Linked DNA regions of Homo sapiens: all the other regions are linked to region 2. The links come from fine-mapping of genetic effects on gene expression. A gene starts in region 2. Each other region holds a variant in brackets. All regions are shown on one strand. Distances are from middle to middle.

What was found. PIP is the estimated chance that this variant, and not a neighbour inherited with it, causes the effect. A credible set is the group of variants that fine-mapping cannot tell apart.
Region 1: its variant is the best candidate, but not a certain one, in a credible set for the expression of GNB1L in skeletal muscle (GTEx, PIP 0.74).
Region 3: its variant is the best candidate, but not a certain one, in a credible set for the expression of GNB1L in monocytes after LPS (Kim-Hellmuth 2017, PIP 0.83).

Annotation. Positions count from the first base shown.
Region 1 is chr22:19,776,163-19,782,907 of GRCh38, reverse strand. It overlaps a transcript of TBX1 not described here. Among named protein-coding and RNA genes, the nearest start is that of TBX1, 19 kb to the right of the region's middle. RefSeq lists a silencer at 5,868-6,369. The variant C/A (reference allele first, on the strand shown) is at 3,380.
Region 2 is chr22:19,852,272-19,858,275 of GRCh38, reverse strand. GNB1L (G protein subunit beta 1 like) reads left to right here and starts at 3,402. Exons shown (of 8, transcript NM_053004.3): 1 at 3,402-3,456; 2 at 3,737-3,833. RTL10 (retrotransposon Gag like 10) reads left to right here and starts at 3,402. Exons shown (of 3, transcript NM_024627.6): 1 at 3,402-3,616; 2 at 3,737-3,833; 3 at 5,790-6,004. It overlaps LOC124905080 (a long non-coding RNA gene), which reads right to left and starts at 3,304. Exons shown (of 2, transcript XR_007068005.1): 1 at 2,564-3,304. RefSeq lists enhancers at 2,392-2,871, 4,294-4,912.
Region 3 is chr22:19,790,450-19,797,194 of GRCh38, reverse strand. The region is part of intron 7 of GNB1L (G protein subunit beta 1 like); the gene reads left to right. It also overlaps the pseudogene RPL7AP70. Among named protein-coding and RNA genes, the nearest start is that of TBX1, 33 kb to the right of the region's middle. The variant G/C (reference allele first, on the strand shown) is at 2,580.

The DNA of each region.
Region 1 (6,745 bases), 76 kb after region 2:
GTCCAGGAGAGGGGAAACAGATCCCTACACTGGGTGGAGGAAGGTCAAAGTGTTTGTGGCCTTTATCAAATAAGGCTTGTCCTTGTTTCTCTTTGTGTAGCAAGAAAGAGTGAACACAGACAGCTGAGGCCCCAGAAACAGGGAAGGAGCTAGAATCCATGCACATCAGCCTCACACACCATCAGTAGGTGGGAAGAGTCCAGTGTGCACCCACTCAGCTTGCACAGCCACAGGCAGCCTGCCCAGGACCACCCTGTCACTCAGCCCTGCGGGTGTGATAAGACACTGACAAGGAAGGTTAGTCCTTCCTTGTCCCAACACACCAGGCAATATCTCCAAATGAAAGGATAATGCAATGGGCTCTCCCATCCATGAAACCCAAAGAATCGCTCATCTCAGGAAGAGATGCTAAAGTGTCACAAACTGAAAGCAAATACAAAAGATGGGCTAAAGAGTTCCTCAACATAACAAGAGGTTTTGTTATCAAAAGAGACTCAGCATTAAAAATAATAAAATACTTAAGAATTAGCTTAACTAGGGAGGTGAAAGACTTGTACACTGAAATCTATAAAACACTGCTGAAAGAAATTAAAACATAAATAAATGGAAATACATCCCATGTTCATGGATTGGAAAACTTAACATTGTTAAGATATCCATACTACCCAAAGCAGTCTACAGATTCAATGCATTCCCTTCAAAAATCCCAATGACATTTTTTGTAGAAATAGAAAAAGCCATTTTGAAATTCATATGGAGTCTCAAGGACCCCTTAATAGCTAAAACAATCTTAAAATGAATAAACTTGGAGGATTCATACTTCCTGGTTTCAAAATTTACTATAAAGCTATAGTAATCAAAACAGTGTGGTACTGGCATAAAGGCAGATGTAAAGACCAATGTAATAGAATAGACAGCCTAGAAATAAACCAGTGATATTTTTCTCAATTAGAAACAGGGTCTCACTGCGTTGCCCAGTCTGGTCTTGAACTCCTGGCCTCAAGCAATTCTCCTACCTCTGCCTCCCAAGTAGCTGGGACTATAGGTACATGCCACTGCACCTGGCTGGCCAAATGATTTTTAATGTGGTGACCATTCAATGGGGGAAAAGACTGTCTTTTTAACAAATGATGTTGGGAAAACTGGATTTACAAATGCAAAAGAATGCAGTTTGATCCCCCACCTCATACCCTATAAACTCAAAATAGAGCAAAGACCTAAATTAAGACCTAAAACCATAAAACCCTTAGAAGAAAACATAGGCCAAAAGCTTCATGACATTGAATTTAGCAATAAATTCTTGGATATGACACGAAAGGCACATTTCACAAAAGAAAAAAATAGACAAACTGGACTTCATGAAAATTTAAAAGTTGTATGCATCAAAAGACACCATCAACAGAGTAAAAAAGCAGCCCACAGACTGAGAGAAAATCTTTACAAACCATATATCTGATAAGGGATTAATATCCACAATATATAGAGAACTCCTAAAACTCAACAACAACAAAAAAGCCGATTCAAAAATGGGCCATCCTGGGTGCCGTGGTATGTACCCAGTTATTCAAGAGGCTGAGGCAAGAGGATCACTTAATCCAGGAGCTGGAGTCCAGCCTGGGCAACATAGTGAGACCCTGTCTCTAAAAATTAAAAATTAAAAAAAAATAGACAAATGACTTAAGTAGACATATCTCCAAAGAAGATGTATGAGTAGCCAGCAGGCACAGCATCACTATCCTCTGGGGAAATGCAAGTCAGAACTATAATGAGACAGATACTGCCTTACACCCATGAGGATGGGTACACCAAAAATAAAAACAAAACAGGGCCGGGTGCAGTGGCTCACGCCTGTAATCCCAGCACTTTGGGAGGCTGAGGCGGGTGGATCACGAGGTCAGGAGATCGAGACCATCCTGGCTAACATGGTAAAACCCCGTCTCTACTAAAACTACAAAAAATTAGCTGGGCGTGGTGGCGGGCACCTGTAGTCCTAGCTACTCGGGAGGCTGAGGCAGGAGAATGGCATGAACCCAGGAGGCAGAGCTTGCAGTGAGCCGAGATCGCGCCACTGCACTCCAGCCTGGGCGACGGAGCGAGACTCCATCTCAAAAAAAAAAAACAAAAAAAAAAACAGAAAACAAGTGTGTGGAGAAATCTGAACCCTTGTGCGCTATTGGTGGGAATGTAAAAATGGAGTAGCAGCTATGGAAAACAGTGTGGTCATTTCTCAAAATCCTGGACATAGAATTACCATATGAGCCAGCAGTTCCTCTTGTGGCAGAATACCCAAGAGAACTGAAAGCAGGGCTGCAAAGATATTTCTATACCCACGTTCATAGCGGCATTACTCACAGCAGCCAACAGGTGGGAGCAACCCAAGTGTCCATTGACAGAAGAATGAATCAACAAAACGTGGTACAGACATACAACAGAATAGTGTTCAGCCTTATAAAGGCAGGGAGTTCCGACACAGGCTAGAACACGGATGAACCTTGAGGTCCTTACACTCAGTGAACTAAGCCAGCCACAAAAAGACAAATGCTGTGTGATTCCACTTACATGAGGCGCCTAGAGTAGTCAGATTCACAGAGACAGAGAGTAGAATGCTGGCTGCCAGGGGAGGGGAATGAGGAGTTCTTGTTTAATGGGGACAGAGTTTCAGTTTTCTGAGATGAAGAGTTCTGAGATGGCTGGTGGTGATGGCTGCACAGTCATGTGGATGGACTTCATGCCACTGAAATGTACACTTACAAAGGGCTACGATGGTAAATTTGATTTACGTGTATTTTCCCTCAATGTTAAAAACTGAAAACTAAAGGCCTGCTTAAGTCTAGCTAACTAGCAAATACATCACCTGACATAGTTCTCATTTTTGTGGTAAGAAGTTTACACAATAAATACGTCAATTTTATATGTCGATTTAAAAAATAAATAAGTAAATGTGAAGGGAAAGAGCCTGAGGGGGCAGTCAGGCTTACTGGACAGCAGCACTTGGCCTCACCGTGGTGCCTCCGCCTGGGAGCCGCCAGCCAGGGCTTTTCCCGAGTGATGTGGGTCGGATGCTAATCCCCAGGAGGGTGCTAAGAGCACGTCGGAGAAAGAATAAGAACGCGATAGAGAAAAGCACAGCTACTGCTTTCAGAACCAGTTTGAGGGAATCATCCTCATAGTGTGTGGGTGTCTGTACTGAGGTGTTTAAGGCATTTTTGGATCAGATATGTTAAGCTTGTAGTTTCCATTAAATATTTAGAAGTGTTTATAATGAGTTTACAGTCAATGTTTAAATGTCAGGAGAAATTTACTTTGTTTTATCCAACAAGTTTTGATTTATCAACTGGGAGTGTGACTCTATGGAGAAGTATTTATTACAAAACATGCA[C/A]TTTATTCATATTGGAATTTACTGAACAAGTCACTGTTTTTTTAATTTTGGAAATTTCAAACATGAACCAAAGTGAAGGGAAACACGACAACTCCATGTGCCCATGGCCCGGCCTCAGCATTCAACAAAGACGGTCACCTGCGGTCCTCCCAGCCACCAGGCCCTGGGTATTGAAGGGTTGGCACTCTGCGGGGCAGGGGAGCCCCAGGTTCACACAGCCACCTGCATCCCTCAGAAGCTCCACTTCTCTCTCTGGTGTGTTCCTAGACGTCTCAGCTTTCACTTCCTTGTCCTTCAGGACATGTCCACCTGGGTGACAACCCCATCCAATGAGAGTGGATGAAGTACCATGTCAGAGGTGCCTCTCTTTTCTTGCAGATCAGACTGCACAAATGTCCAGTGTCTGAACCGCATGGAAGGGCAGGACAGGACTGCATCTCCCAACGAGCCGAGCCGCCCACAGGACACAGACACAGACACGGCCTCCACAGCCACACCAGGTCCCACCTCAGCCCAGCACAGGCCTTTCCCACAGTCAGTGACCCCAAGGAAAGACGTCGGATCAGGGAACCAGATCTCCCCCTTACCTACTTTTATTTATTTTATTTGTTTGAGACGGAGTCTTATTGTTGCCTAGGCTGGAGTGCAGTGGTGCAATCTCAGCTCACTGCAACCTCCACCTCCCAAGTTCAAGCAGTTATCCTGCCTCAGCCTCCCAAGTAGCTGGGATTACAGGCACCTGCCGCCACGTCCAGCTAACTTTTATATTTTTAGTAGAGATGGGGTTTCAAAGGGGCTGGACACGGTGGCTCATGCCTACAATCCCAGAACTTTGGGAGGCTGAGGCAGGCGGATCATTTGAGCCCAGGAGTTTGAGATCAGCCTGCCCAACATGGTGAAGCCCCGTCTCTACTGAAAATACAAAAATTAGCCAGGCATGGTGGCGCATGCCTGTAATCCCAGCTATTTGGGAGGCTGAGGCAGGAGGATTGCTTGAGCCCAGGAGGTGGAGTTTGCAGTGAGCTGAGACTACGCCATTGCACTCCAGCCTGGGCAACCAGAACGAAACTCCGTCTCAAAAAAAAAAAAGAAGAAGAAAAGAAAGAAAGAAAAGAAATAAGGAGCAATGGCCAGGTGCAGTGGCTCACACCTATAATCCCAGTGCTTTGGAGGGCAAAAGCGGGAGGATCACTTGAGCTCAGGAGTTTGTGACCAGCCTGGGCAACATAGTGAGACCCCCATCTCTAACAACAACAACAACATCAAAAAAGCCAGGTGTGGTGGCACACACCTGTAGTCCTAGCTGTTCGGGAGACTGAGGAGGAAGGTTTGCTTGAGACTGGGAGGTTGAGGCTGCAGTGAGCCTTGATCACGATGCCACTGCACTCCAGCCTGGGTGACAGAGCAAGATCCTGTCTCTTGAAATGAGCAGGAATGTGCTGTTTTACTAGTTAAGAGTAATAAATCCTGGTTGGGTGTGGTGGCTCACGCCTGTAATCCCAGCACTTTGAGAGGCCAAGGCAAGAGGATCACTTGAGCTCAGGAGTTCGAGACCAGCCTGAGCAACATGGCAAAATCCCATCTCCACAAAAAACTTAAAAATTAGCCGGGCATGGTGGTGCGTGCCTGTGTTCCCAGCTACATGGGAGGTTGAGGTAAGAGGATCACTTGAGCCTAGGAGGTCAAGGCTGCCGTGAGCCATGATCATACCACTGCACTCCAGGCTGGGGGGCAGAGGGAGACCCTGTCTCAAAAAAAAAAAAAAAAAAATTAAGAGTAACAACACACCCTGAACCTGTGCCCAGCACACTGAAACCCAGTGAAAGGGGCTGAGAGAGGATGGAGAGGGGGAGACGAAAAGGACCGATACCCAGAATGGGTCAAAACAGACGAGAAGGCATGGGAAAGGCCAGCACGCTCTTTATAAGAGTAGAACTCAGCCACCCCATTACTGGGTATATACCCAAAGGATTATAAATCATGCTGCTATAAAGACACATGCACACGTATGTTTATTGCAGCACTATTCACAATAGCAAAGACTTGGAACCAACCCAAATGTCCAACAACGATAGACTGGATTAAGAAAATGTGGCACATATACACCATGGAATACTATGCAGCCATAAAAAATGAAGAGCTCATGTCCTTCATAGGGACATGGATGAAACTGGAAACCATCATTCTCAGCAAACTATCGCAAGGACAAAAAACCAAACACCGCATGTTCTCACTCATAGGTGGGAATTGAACAATGAGAACACACGGACACAGGAAGGGGAACATCACACTCCGGGGACTGTTGTGGGGTAGGGGGAGGGGGAGGGATAGCATTAGGAGACATACCTAATGCTAAATGACGAGTTAATAGGTGCAGCACACCAACATGGCACATGTATACATATGTAACAAACCTGCATGTTGTGCACATGTACCCTAAAACAGTATAATAATAATTAAATTATATTAAATTAAAATTTTTTAAAAAAACCTTAATGTTCAATAACATGCGCCCTCTGTAGCGTATGGGATTGAGCGTTACCCAGGAAGCTCCTCCCACCCCGTGTGCTGGCCCTTCCTGCCTGCACTGGCTGATCTGTGTTCTGTACTGTGGTTTTGCCTTTTCCCAGACAGCTTATAAACAGAGCCACGCGGCACGGCACCTCCCGAGCCTGCTTCCTTCCCTCCGTGAGATAAAGTCAAGACTCATCCAGGTTGCCTGCATCTGTAGGTCGCTGCTTTTCATCCACTCATTGGCAGAGGCACATGCGGGTAGTGTGCTGGCTCTGAGTTGGTGGCTGGCATGGACGTCGGCTACCAGCCTCTGCTTCCATCCCTTGAGGGTAGGCGTGCTCTCTTGAAGTCTTGCCCACCCAGACTGATCACATGCGGTTCTGCTTTTCAGGCCCAGTGGCTGCCCTTGAGACATGACCCCTCCCTCCCTGAGTGGGAGACCCAGCTCCTAAGCAGGGCAAGCAGGCCTGGCCCTGGGGTGGCCCGAGGTCCCCTGCACCCATCTCCGAGGTGATCCTGCCTCTGAAGAGCCCTCCACCCCGTGCAGGCCCCTGGGTGTTAGCTGTCCCTGCTGGAACATGAGCTCTTCTAGAGCAGGCACTGTGTGTCTTGCATTCATGGGATGGACACTTTGGCACTTTTGCCTTACCCTCCCACCCCCAGTGAGGGAGGACTGGGCCTTCCTGGAGCAAGGGGCCACACGTCTTCCTCCTGAGGAGCTAGGATCCTAAGGAAAGCTATAGAGCACCATATTGGGTAGGGACAGAGAAACCACCCCTGAGAGAGAGGGAGACCACGGGCAGACACGGAGCCACGAGCACAGGCCCCAGAGCTGGGGTGGACACGGGCCAC
Region 2 (6,004 bases):
AGACAAATTAGACTTGGAAATTAATGAAATTAATTTAGTGAAATTAAGTTAATGACATTTTAATGAAAATGAAAAACTTCTGTGTATCAAAAGACACTATCAACAGAGTGAAAAGGCAGCCTATGGAGAAATACTTGCAAATGATATATCTGACAAGGGATTAATATCCAGAATATCTAGAAAAATCTTACAACTCAACAATAAAAACAAAAATCCAGTGAAAAATGGGCATAGGACTTGAATAGCCATTTCTCCAGTGAAGATATACAAATGGCCAATAACAGGAAAAGATGCTCAATCTCACTAGTCATTAGAGAAATGCAAATTAAAATCACAATGGGACACCACTTCATACCGTTAGGATGGCTATTGGAAAAAAACAAAAGAGAAGGTAACCAAGTGTTGGTGAGGATGTGGAGAAGTTGGAACTCCTGTGCACTGTTGGTGGGAATGTAAAATGGTTCACTTGCTATGGAAAAGTTTGGCAATCTCTCAAAAAGTCAAACAAAATATTACCGTATCATTCAGCAATTTCACTCTTATGTACTGAAAGCAGGGACTCAAACATATACTTGTACACTAATGTTCATAGCAGCATTATTCACAATAGCCAAAAGGTGAAAACAACCCAAGTGTCAATCAACAAATGAATAAACAAAATCTGGTCAATGTGTACAAAGGAATATTACACAGCCTTAAAAATGAAGGAAGTTCTGACACATGCTACGATGTGGATGAACCTTGAAAACATGTTGAGTGAAATAATCCAGTCACAAAATGATAAATACTGTATGATTCCACTTATATGAGGTACCTAGAGTAATTAAATTCACAGAGACAGAATATAGAATGATGGTTACCAGGGGTTGCGAGTGGGAGGGGAAGAGGAGTTAATGTTCTGGAGTGAAGAAAAAGTTCTAGAAATAAATAGTGATCACTGGATATACAACAGCATGAATGTACTTAATGCTCCTGAACTGTATACCTAAAAATGGCTAAAATGGTAAATGTTACTATATTTTACCACAATAAAAAAACAGTCATATGTCACTTAACTGTGGGGATACACTCTGAGAAATGTGTCACTAGGCGATTTTGTCATGGAGGGATCCTCATAGAGTAACTTACACAAACTAAGATGGTAGAGCCTACTACACACCTAGGCTGTATGGTAAGGCCTGTTGCTCCTGGGCTACAAACTTGCACAGTGACTCTACTGAACAATGTAGGCAATTGTGACACAGTGGTATTAGTGCACCTAATCATAGCAAAGGTACAGTAAAAGTACAGTGCAAAAAATAAAAAATAGAACTGGTTAGGGCACTTGCCATGAACAGAGGTGCAGGACTGGAAGTTGCTGTGGGTGTGAGTGGTGAGTGAATGTGAAGGCCTAAGACATTATTGTACACTACTTTAGACTTTATAAACACTGTACACTTAGGCTGCAACACACTTATATTAAACATTTTCCTTTTTTTTTGAGATGGAGTCTCACTCTATTGCCCAGGCTGGAGTGCAGTAGCACAATCTCAGCTCACTGCAACCTCCGCCTCCTGGGTTCAAGCGATTCTCCTGCCTCAGCCTCCCAAGTAGCTGGGATTACAGGCACATACCACCACGCCCGGCTAATTTTTTGTATTTTTGGTAGAGACAGGGTTTCACCATGTTGACCAGGCTGGTCTCAAACTCCTGACCTCAAATGAGCTGCCCGCCTTGGGCTCCCAAAATGCTGGGATTACAAGCATGAGCCTCCACAGCGCCTGGCCTAAAAATTTTCTTTCTTCAATAATAAAATAACTATAGCTTACTGGATGACCAGTTACATATGTGGTCCCTAGTTGACCAAAACGTTGTTATGCGGTGCATGACAGTTATACACAGGAGAGGGCCTGAAAGAAAAAAAAAATTTGGACCAAAAAAGGCCTTTTCTGGCTCAGTTGGATTCATTTCTTCCACAGGCCCACTGCCCACTCTGCTGATGGGCGCTGAGCTGTAGACTGAGCTGCCTTGAGGCTGAGGTAAGCTGAATTTGTGGGAACCCCCACCTTTCCCTTGAGGGAGGAAGTTTAAATTATCAGGTCAATTAGGAAAGATACAACCGAAAAAAATCCAAATTTCATTCCCACTTCAAGGAGGCGTTTCCTGGCTCGGTGCCACTTTTATTATTTTTGGCCCAGGCTGCTGAAAGCCCCACAGACCCAGGGAAGGTACAATGTGACCTTTGATTCGCGTTTCAGGGATCAAAGTGAGTGAGTTTGGGTGTAAATGCAGATAACATTTCAGAGAGCTTTCATGAAAGGAGTCACTGGACCAGGGCAGAAAGGGAGCTGGTGTGTTACGTGTGTGTTCCCCTTGAGAAGCGTCACTTTCCGGTGAATCCGGCTGCCTGCCCGTGGCCCCAAGGACTCCTGGCTTGCATCCAGGTCCTTGGCCCACAGGCATCAGATCCTGAGCTGGGGCGCCTGCACCCTCTCCCACCTCTTCTCTAGGCACCGTGAAGCCGAGGAGAGGTGGCGTGGGACGGCTTGTGCAAGTGAGAAGAGCACCACCACTTCATCCTCACCTATCTTGTCCCAGGATCTGGGTGCTGACTCGGCAGGCTTGGGCTGGGCACGGCCCTGTGGGGAGGGCTTGGTAGCCTGCCCTCGCTGTCGTCTCCGGGTCCAGCCTCGGCCTGAGTCGGGAAGCACACAATTATATCCACAACAAGGAGGCCCAGAGGCCCTGCCTGCAGCCCCCAGGTATGCAGGTAGAGGGTCCTCTCGGACTGCCTGCCCCCTGCCTCTGGCGCCCAGCCTGCAGCTACGTCGAACCGGGCCCTAACAAGGTTCCCCGCACTGGCAATGAGTGATGAGAGGCACTCCGCGGGCACGCCGTTCCAGGGCGCTCACGAGGCCCAGCAGCCCCGCTATGCCCACATCCACCCCGACACCTGCAGCCCCCCAGGCTTAGCCCGGCCCCGCAGCAGCCCTCTCGACGCCCAGCAGCACCCCAGTGTCTGGCTGACGCCAGGGCAGTAACGGCGGGCTGAAGCAGCATCGGCCCCTCGGTCTACGCCACAGCCGGGTGCAGATTTCCCGGATCTGAGGGACCGCCGGGCACCGTCCGCTGGGGATCATGAGGGGCAGCTTTGGCCCGACCGTCTCGCGCCTGTACACGCGGCCCCACCTGATCCCGTGGCACTTGGCGCGGCGTGGGAATGGGCGCGCTCTCCCATCACCCACCGCGCGGCACTGCCGCGCCAGCAGGGACCGGGAGAGCCTGCGAGGTAGCGGCCACACGGCATACAGCGCAGGCGCGGCCTGGATGGGAGGAGCGCGTGGAGCGTGCCGGGAGCATGCGCCGGGTCGTACACGGCGGCCGCGCGCACGCTGGGGGCGTGGCTGCGCGATGTAATCGGTCTCTGGACGCTGCGCGGCGCTCCTAGGAGCAGGCGTTCCCGACTCCGGCAAGAGGGTCAGTGTGGAGGCGGGAGCCCGGGCGGCCGGCTTGAACTCCGTGCACGCGGGCCTGGAGCTGCGCCCCTGCGTCTTTTCCCGACTTCTGATCCGCAGAGGGGCACTCGGAGCCCCAGCCTGGGTCGCAGTGCCTTCGGTCTGCGGGCCTCAGTTTCTCGGTCCGCGCCGGGGGTTTGTGGGGGCACCTGGAGACATTTGGGCCGTTCTCGCAGTCTCGGGAAGCCGCGCCCGCTCCTTGCCTGGCCTCACGGCGGCCGATCTCGTTCTCCACTTTCTAGGTGGCGCCTGGACTCTCGCCCTCAGAGGGAGGCCCGTCCCACGGTCTGTGGCTACGGATCCCAGGACCCTCTTCGCGGGCGATTCGCGTAGCCTCAGGTGGGTGGGCTTCTTGTTGCCGTGGGCCTTGTGAGCTCGTATTTCCTGCATGGCGGTTGCTGGGGGGCGGGCGGTGCAGTCGTCTGCACTCAGCTTGCTTTAAGGCTTTGGGCAGGTTTTGTTCTTGGGGCTCCTGGGTCTCCCCAGAGCAGAGAACGGCTCCAGCGTTCCAGGTGCTGCCTTTGGCCTTGTGGGGGCAAACACACATGCGCCGTGGTACCTGCCCCTTTAGGATAGTGCTGTCCAGTCTAGAAGGGCCGAAAGTCTTCTATGCCAGGCAGTGTGGGGAGAAAAGTAGGGGGACCAACAGACTGATAGGCGTGGGAGGGCTAAGGTTCTCAAAATGGTGAGAGTGCGGCCCAGGGTTAGGAAGGCTCAGGCCCAAAGCAGGCCTGGCTGGCTGGTGCAGGGAAGCCTTCTCCCAGACTGCAGGGGACACAGGTGCGCAGGTGAGTGGGCAGGGTAGGGGACTGGGAAGAAGGGAAGGCAGAGATCTGGGTAGCACACTGTGGCTCCCGGGCATGGGGTGTGGTCATTGTGGGCAACCTGGATACCTAACCTTGGCTGGTGGTGGGAGCTGGGCCCTGGATCGGGGTCACTGCTTTTTTAGAGCTCAGTGAGGGACTGGACTGGACTCGACTCACGTCCAGGCCTTAGTATAATCCTGCAGTAAGGTGGGAAGCCAGGGTCATGGGCTGGGCTTTCAGGTGAAGACCCCCCCCCCAGAGGGGGGTCAGACCTGAGGGATTCCAGAGTGTTTGGGTGGTGGAGGTAGGGCCAGTGGCCCTGGCAGGTTCTAGTGCTGCAGGCCACCCTGGGAGGTACCTGGAGGAACTCACCCTGAGGGGGGATGGCCAGCAGATAGGAGATGTGGGATGAAGGTGTGTGCAGGCCTTGTGCTCCCAGTGAGCCGGTGGCGTTTGTGTGTGGGGTGAAGCAGAGAGTTTCCTGGAGGTCGTGAGTGGGCCTCCGTTTGCAGAGAGACTGGGGAGGGGGCTAGATAGAGTTAGGCTGCAGAGTGTAAGAGCCCTACAGGAGGGCTCCTTGCACTGGAATAGAACTGGCTACTGGCTCTGGAGCCTCCTAGGTGACTGCTGCGTGGAGAAGGAGGGGCGGGTCCAGCCATCAGACTGGGACTCCCCAGACCCTGGGCACAAGTGACTGGAGTGGCGGGAGCAGACAGCAAGTGGGGTTCCAGGATTTTACAATGGTGGGGGCTGGGATGCTCTGCTGTGGCTGGGATGGGGACTGTGGAAAGGTGGTGTTTGTGGGTGGGGGTGGCATTGCCTGCAGGTGGCACTCAGTTGTGAGAGGTGAATTTGGAAAGCATGTGGGGTCAGGAGGGAGCAGAGAATAGCAGGCTCACTGCTCTGTCGGGGAAGCAGGTAGGACCTGCTGTGTGCCTGGTGCTGGGATGTAAAAGAGCCTAATGACGACGCGGTCTGTGCGTTGTTCAGAGTTTTTGGGGCGGCTAGAGCCTACTCAGCAGACAAATGTAGTTTATAATCGCGTGCTGTATAGTAGTTAAGCCTCTGGTCTCTCCAGCCAGTTTTTGCTGCTTCCACCACTTATGGGTTAGTGTGTGGCTGCAGACAAGTTACTTCACCACTGTGTGCCTCAAAGACAATGCTAGTACCAACCTCCTGTGGGGGAGGTGGCACAAATGGGGCACTCAGTGAAAGGTTACTACTATTGCTATCCTGAAATTCCTGACAGTTCTGATCTGGCCCCTTTTCTTCTGAAATTGACAGCATCTGTCATTCTGCCTTGCCCTTGCAATGTCATAGGCAGCATTTGCCCACCTCAGACCTCCCAGGCCAGCCCCCTGGGCCCCTCCTTCCATTCAAAGCTCCTAGTTGGGTACCAGAGGGTTGCCCGCTTGTAGCCTCTTCCCACCAGTCCAGTGGGTGATGGTTAGGCCTAGTTCCTGCTCTTCCCCACCTTGTCTTTGGACAGATTGCCTCGGATGATGGCCTGCGACTGACAGTCTCTCAGCTCTTCTCAGCTCTCCTGAGGCTGCAGCTGTCAGCTCCCTGATCCTCAGCACTTGCCTGGACCAGTGCGGGTCTGCCACGCCCTGTTCAGCCATCCCTGTCCTGTTGTGTCGTGCAAGCCACATCTGTCCACACCCCCACCACCCACCAGTGCTGGCTCTCCTCTCTTCTCCCCTG
Region 3 (6,745 bases), 61 kb after region 2:
CCGATGGATGGACACATTTGGGCGGTGGAGGTGGGGGGTCGTGAGTGACTGTAGGTTGGTCTTCGCCTGCACCATTACTGGGCAGTTATTTTCTCTGCCCAGGTTGTTTTCTTTGTGGACTAATTTAGGTTTCCTGATTTGGGGAATTTTTCTAGGAATTTGTCTGTGGGCATACAAATCCTGAAGGTTGTATTCCTAGTGACCTTTTTTGGACTGCTTGTGATGATTGTTTAAATTTCTGCCGCATTCAAAGCTCCGTCCCTGCTTTATTCCTGATCAGTCTTGTATGCGTTTGTCCTTGAGCATTTCTATCTTTCTGTTCATTGTTTCTGTCCTTGCCATGCTCTCCCTCCATCCCATGTCCCCTGGGTTGCATCTGCTGCCCTGCCTGGGGTCAGGTGCACAGCCCATCGGCACTCAGCCTTCCCTTGCCAGCCCCACATGGAGCCTGTTTCCAGAGGTGACTGTCCAGCTGGGCTCCCTGGTGCAAGAAGACATTGTCTTCCTCCCCCCACTTCCAGGCAGACCCCATTTTTATTATTTTTTCCCCATATTCCTCATTTGACACAAAGACCCCATTTTTATTTGTTCTCTGGCTGCTGAGTTAATTAGAATGTTTTTATGGTTCTGAATGTTTGATTTTTTTCCCCAGTTATTTTTTAGTTTTCAATTTCTAACTTAATTAACATTGTGGTCTGGGAACAAGGTCTGAATGATATTAGTTCTTTGAAATGCGGGGCCGTCCAGTTTTCATAAGCATTGCACATGTGCCAGGGAGGCAGTGCTGGTTGTCAGATGCCCCGCTGCACACGTGGGCGCCAGGCCCGTGTGTCCACTGATTCTTAGCCCTTTAAGTCATCCTGCAGGTCACCATGGTCCCCAGCAGGCGCAGAGAGGCCTGTCCTGTTCCCTTTTGCTGGGGGCCTGTCTGTATTTGCTTTATGCACTTTGAAGCTGGCCTGGGAACATGCCAGTTTAAAATGGTGATTTCCTGGTGAATGAGGTCTTTTCTTCATTCCCCCTCATCATCTCTAGAAAGGACATTTGCCCCAAAGCCTATTTTTCCAACTATTAATATGGCTCAGTCCAGGTTTCTTTTGGTCACTACTTCCCTTTATAGCCTTTACATTTTAATCATTTTACCTCCAACCTTCCTGGCCCTCCAGGCGTAGACACATCTCTTATGGAGCCAGTTCTCACATCGATGATTGCATGTCGTGTGTGAGCGTTGCCCTGGGTGTTCTTACATCTCAAGACCTCCTTCTGGAAGCCAAAAAGCGCATCCTTTAGGGATTCCTCAGGCAGGGGCCTCTTGGTGGCTGTGCTGGTGGCCTCTGATGCACGGGCCTGGATGCTGAGGGGCCGTTCTCTGAGCAGCAGCAGCTGCTGGGCCATGGGTCTAGGTCCTGCCACCTCCCTGGGCTGCTGAGAATTCAGCTCCCAGCCTGGCCACCTTCCATGTGACTCAGTCTCATTGGCTTTGACTTACTGTGTCTTCATTTTAATTCAGTTCAGAATATTGTGATTTTCTCTTTGATCTGTAGGTTCCTTGGTGGGGGTGTGTTATTTAATTTCCAAATATTCGTTGATTTTGTAGCTATATCTTTAATCTAGCTTAATTCTGTTGTCAGTGAATGCACGCAGTGCAATTGCAGTGTTTAGAAATTTATGGAGGCTTGCTTTTGGCCCAGCACATGGCGTGTCTCGGGGAGTGCACCACATGGACTTGAAAGGAGCGTGTGTTCCGCAGTTGTGGGGTGGAGCCTTCCGTCAGCCTGACCCAGGTCAGTGGACGTGGTTCCAGTCTTTAATATCCTTACCGATCTTTTGGTCTAGTTTTGTTTTTTTTTTACCAGTTACGCAGAGAAGGCTCTTAAAATCTTTAACTGTGATTGCAAACGTGCCTGTTTCTTTGTCTCTGCCAGTTTTGCTTCATGAGCTTTGAAGCTCTGGGGCTCAGTGTGGGTGTATAGGCGCTGAGATGTCACCTCATCTTGGTGCAGAGCCTTTTTCTCAGCACAAAGTGTCCCTTGTCTCTTGTTAATGCTCTTTGTCTTGAAGTTGGCTTTGTCTGATACTAAACAGTAGCATCGACTTTCTTAGGTTTGCCCTTTGCATTTTCCTCCTTGCTTCTACTTTCAACCTGTCCTGACCTCTTGATATTTAAAAAGCATCTTTTATTTTATTTTATTTTATTATTTTATTTTATTGTTTTGAGACGGAGTCTCACTCTGTCACCAGGCTGGAGTGCAATGGCGTGATCTCGGCTCACTGCAACCTCCGCCTCCCAGGTTCAAGTGATTCTCCTGCCTCAGCCTCTCGAGTAGCTGGGATTACAGGCACACGCCACCACACCCGGCTAATTTTTGTATTTTTAGTAGAGACAGGGTTTCACCATGTTGTCCAGGATGGTCTCGATCTCTTGACCTCGTGATCCGTCTGCCTCGGCCTCCCAATGAAAAGCATCTTTAGCAGACAGATGTGTCTTGCTTTGTGATGCTTTCTGACAATCTCTGCCTTTTAACTGGTGCATTTAGTCTGTTTGCATTCACTGTAATTATTGACATGCCTGGGATTAA[G/C]TCTAACACCTCTATACTTATTTTCTACTTGTCACTTCCATTTTTGACCACTTTTCCTCCTTTCCTACCTTCTTTTGTGGTAATCAAATATTTATTTTTTAGTATTCGGTTTTGTTTCCTCTCTTGGCTTCTTAGCTAGACCTCTTGCCACTTTTGTTCCTAAGTGGTTGCACTCCAAGAGTGTGCAACCTTCTCAAAGTCTCCTTAGAATCAGTGTTGTTTACATCCCGCCTCACAAACATGATGACCTTGTGCTGGTGCAATCCCTTCTACTCACCTTTTTAGTCTTTCTGTGACTGTTGTGATCTACTTGACGTCTACACACATTCAAAACTGCACCTTACAATATTAGTTTCCCTTTTCTTTGAGGCAAGGTCTTGCTCTGTCACCCAGGCTGGGGTGCAGTGGTGCAATCACAGCTCACTGCACCCTCAAACCCCTGCCTCAGCCTCCCAAGTAGTTGGGACTACAGGCACCTATCACCATGCCTGGATAAGTTTTTGTAGAGATAGGGTCTCACTATGTTGCCCAGGCTGGCCTTGAACTCCTAGGTTCAAGCAATCCCACATGCTGGGATTAAAGGCATGAGCCACTGCATCTGGCCAGTTTTCCTTTAAATCATCAGTTTAAAAAAAAACTTACAAGAAATAAAAAACATAACATGTTACATTTACTCACCCCTTTGCCATTTCTGGTGCTCATCCTATAGACCCAAGTATCCTCTTAACATTTTTTTGTAGTGCAATTCTGCTGGCAAAAAATTCTCTAGCTTTTGTTTATCTAAAAAATGTCTTTATCACCCTCATTTTTACAGAATCCTGGCTATGGAATTTAGGAATGATAGTTTTATTTTTCTTCATGCCCTGTAAAGATGTTGTTACATTGTTTCTGATGAGAACTCATGATATCCTATCATTCCCATGCATGTAATATGTCTTGCTCCGTGGCTGCTTTCAAGATTTTTTTTTATCTGTGGTTTTCAGTAGTTTGACTATCATGTGCCTAGATAGATTTTTCTTCTTGTCCTGATTGGGTTCTGCTGAGCTTTTCATCTATATATTCGTGTTTCCCATTAAAATTGGGAAATATCCAGCCACTGTTTCTTCTTGACCATTTTCACTTTCTCCTCCTTCTGGGGCTTCTATGAGTTACACAGTTTGATAGCATCCCATGGCCCCCTGAGGCTCTGTTTGTTTTGGTTCAGTCGTTTTTTCTCTCTTCAGATTGGGCAATGTCTGTTGATCTGTCTTCCAGTTCACTGACTTTAAAAAATATATATTTCCAATCTACTGTTAAGCCTATTCAATACATTTTTCATTTCAGTATTGAGCTTTCCAGTTCTATATTTTCTATTATGACTCTTTTTTATAATTTCCATTTCTCTGCTAAGAGTTCCTATTTGCTCACTCAAGACAATTTTTTGGGTAATTATTTGAATACACTTTCCTTTCATTTTTTTTTTGAAGGAAAATTTGTATTATTTTAATTATTTTAATGTACAGAAAACTCAACAGTGTACATTTAACCCAGTTTAGTGGCAAGTTCTTTAGCCTTTGCCTTTTCGAGCTTGGCGATACGAGCCACAGACTTAGGACCCAGGATGTTGCCGCCCCAGTGACGGCGGATCTCATCGTATCTGTCATTGTAATTGGTCCTGATAGCTTCCATCAGCTTAGCCAAAGTGCCTTTGTCTTCCGAGTTCACCTATGTGAAGGTGACAGTGGTGCAGGTCTTCCTGTGGACTAGACGTCCCAGTCTTGCCTTCCCCTTGATAATGCAGTAAGGGACCCCCATTTTACGACACAAGGCAGGCAAGAAGACAACCAGCTCGATGGGATCCACGTCGTCTGCAATCACCACCAGCTGAGCTTTCTTGTTCTCCACCAAGGTGGTGACGATGTTAACTCCTGCTCGAAGGACAGGTGGTCTCTTGGTGGGGACGTCCCGTTTGCCAGCAGCTTTCTTCTCAGCCCAGGCCAACAGTCTCTGCTTCTTCTCTTGCTTTGTCTCTGGTCTGTACTTGTGGGCCAGCTTAAGCAGCTGAGTAGCTGTTTGGCAGTCCAGGGCCTAGGTGAACTGGTTAATTGCAGGAGGCACTTTCAGCCGCTTATAGAGGATGGCTCTCTGCCGCTGCAACCTGATATAGCGGGGCCATTTCACAAAGTGGGTGAGGTCTCTTTTGGGCTGGATGTCCTGTCCGATGCCAAAATTCTTAGGCCTTTTCTCAAACAGGGGATTCACCACTTTCTTAGCCTCCTGCTTCTTCATGACAGCAGGGGCCAGAGCCACCTTCTTTCCCTTGGCCTTCTTTCCTTTTGGCATCTTGGGTGGTGGGAGAGAGCTCCTTTCATTTTTTGAACATAGTTAAGGAGTTTCTTTAAAGTCTTTATCTGATATGTTCAACATCTCTGCCATTTTGGGGTCAGTTTCTATTAACTGCTTTTTCCCCTTGACTATGGGTCATATATTCCTGCTTCTTAGCATGTCTACTAATTTGCTGTTTGTGTGCCAGACATGGTAAATGATACATGCTGAATCTCTGGGTTCTGTTATTTTGCTCTGAAGAGTGTTTGCTTTCATTCTGGTATGGAGTTCAGTTACTGACTGTTCACCTTGAGCTTGTGCAGGCTTGGCTTTTGGCTTTGTTAGGGCAGGTCTGTGGAAAGTTCATTCCCAGGCTTGTTTAGTGGGGTGGACCTCAACTTCCAAACTCTGCCTCTCCTGCAGACCTTTTCAGGGCTTGGTTTCTAGTTTTGTTCTGGTAGATCTAGGGTAGGCCATACTCTAAGATAGAATCCTATTCCTGAAGTGAAGCCGTTCTGGTAGCTCAGCTGGTCTCAGGCTGTCACACAGTCTTCACATTCAGGCTGACTGGACCCCCGGCACTGTTGACCTCTTGAACTTGTTCTGTTTAACTGTGCAGCTCTGGTAAGCCCTGTGGAGTCCACCGTGAGCATGCGCAGTCCAGCCCTCACACAAGACTCATAGGGACCCCCTCAGACAATCTTCAGCTCCCTCTGTTCCTTTGCCTTGCCCCATGGATTTCAGCCCTCTGGCTACTGCAGATTATGATCTCTGCCTCCTCAGCTTAATGTGACCACTATGTTCTGCCTGGACTTCATGCTCATGGCATTGTCTCCAGGCAGAGAGCTGTGGGGGCATTTGGGAGGCCCACCTCATCAGCTGCCCTTCTCTGCCTAGTGCTCCCTGCCTGTAAACAGTTGCCTTGTGTATTTTGTCCACTTTTTATGGTTGTTTACAGCAAGAAGACTAGTCTGGTACCAGTTTCTCAATTATAGACACTTTCCTATTGTTCTTGCTTTATGGATGATATGTCAGTTTACTGGCTAAACAGATATTTACAGTTATTTTGGGGGGTGGGGAGCACAAGGTCTTGCTCTGTCACCCAGGCTGGAGTACAATGGTGTGATCACAGCTCACTGCAGCCTCAAACTCCTGGGCTTAAGCAATCCTTCCACCTCAGCCTCCCAGTAAGCTGGGACTACAGGTGCATGCCAGCATGCATGGCTAATTAAAAAATTTTTTTTGTAAAGACAGTATCTCTATATGTTGCCCAGGCTGGTCTTGAACTCCTGGGCTCAGGCAGTCCTCCTGCCTTGGCCTCCCAAAGTGCTGGGATTATATGGCTCTTCATTGGGAATTGTACTCTTTATCATTGTTAAGTCTTTTATATAATCTTACCTAATGCTTTGGCCCTGAATTCAAATGTTCCTATTATTCAGATTACCCTGTTCTTATTTGCATTTTCCCAGTATATCTTTGCCAAGAGTTCCTTTGGCATCCTCCTTGTACCTAGCATAGATTTAGATTTCACTTTGAAATTCAATCATAAACCTAGACTCAAATGATCTTCCAACCTCAACCTCCCAAGTAGCTGGGACTACACGACCACACCTGGCTAATCTGTAATGTTTTTTAAAGACAGGGTCTCACTCTGTTGCCCAGGCTGGAGTGCAGTGGTGTGATCTTAGCTTACTACAGCCTCAAACTCCCAGCCTCAAGCAATCCTCCTGTCTTTGCCTCCCAAGCAGCTGGGATTACAAGCATGAGCCACCACACTCAGCCTGTTGAGTATATTTAGATCTTTTTTTTACTTTATGCAGCTATACAAGGAAACATAGGCACCTACAGTGAGGTGGGAGAGG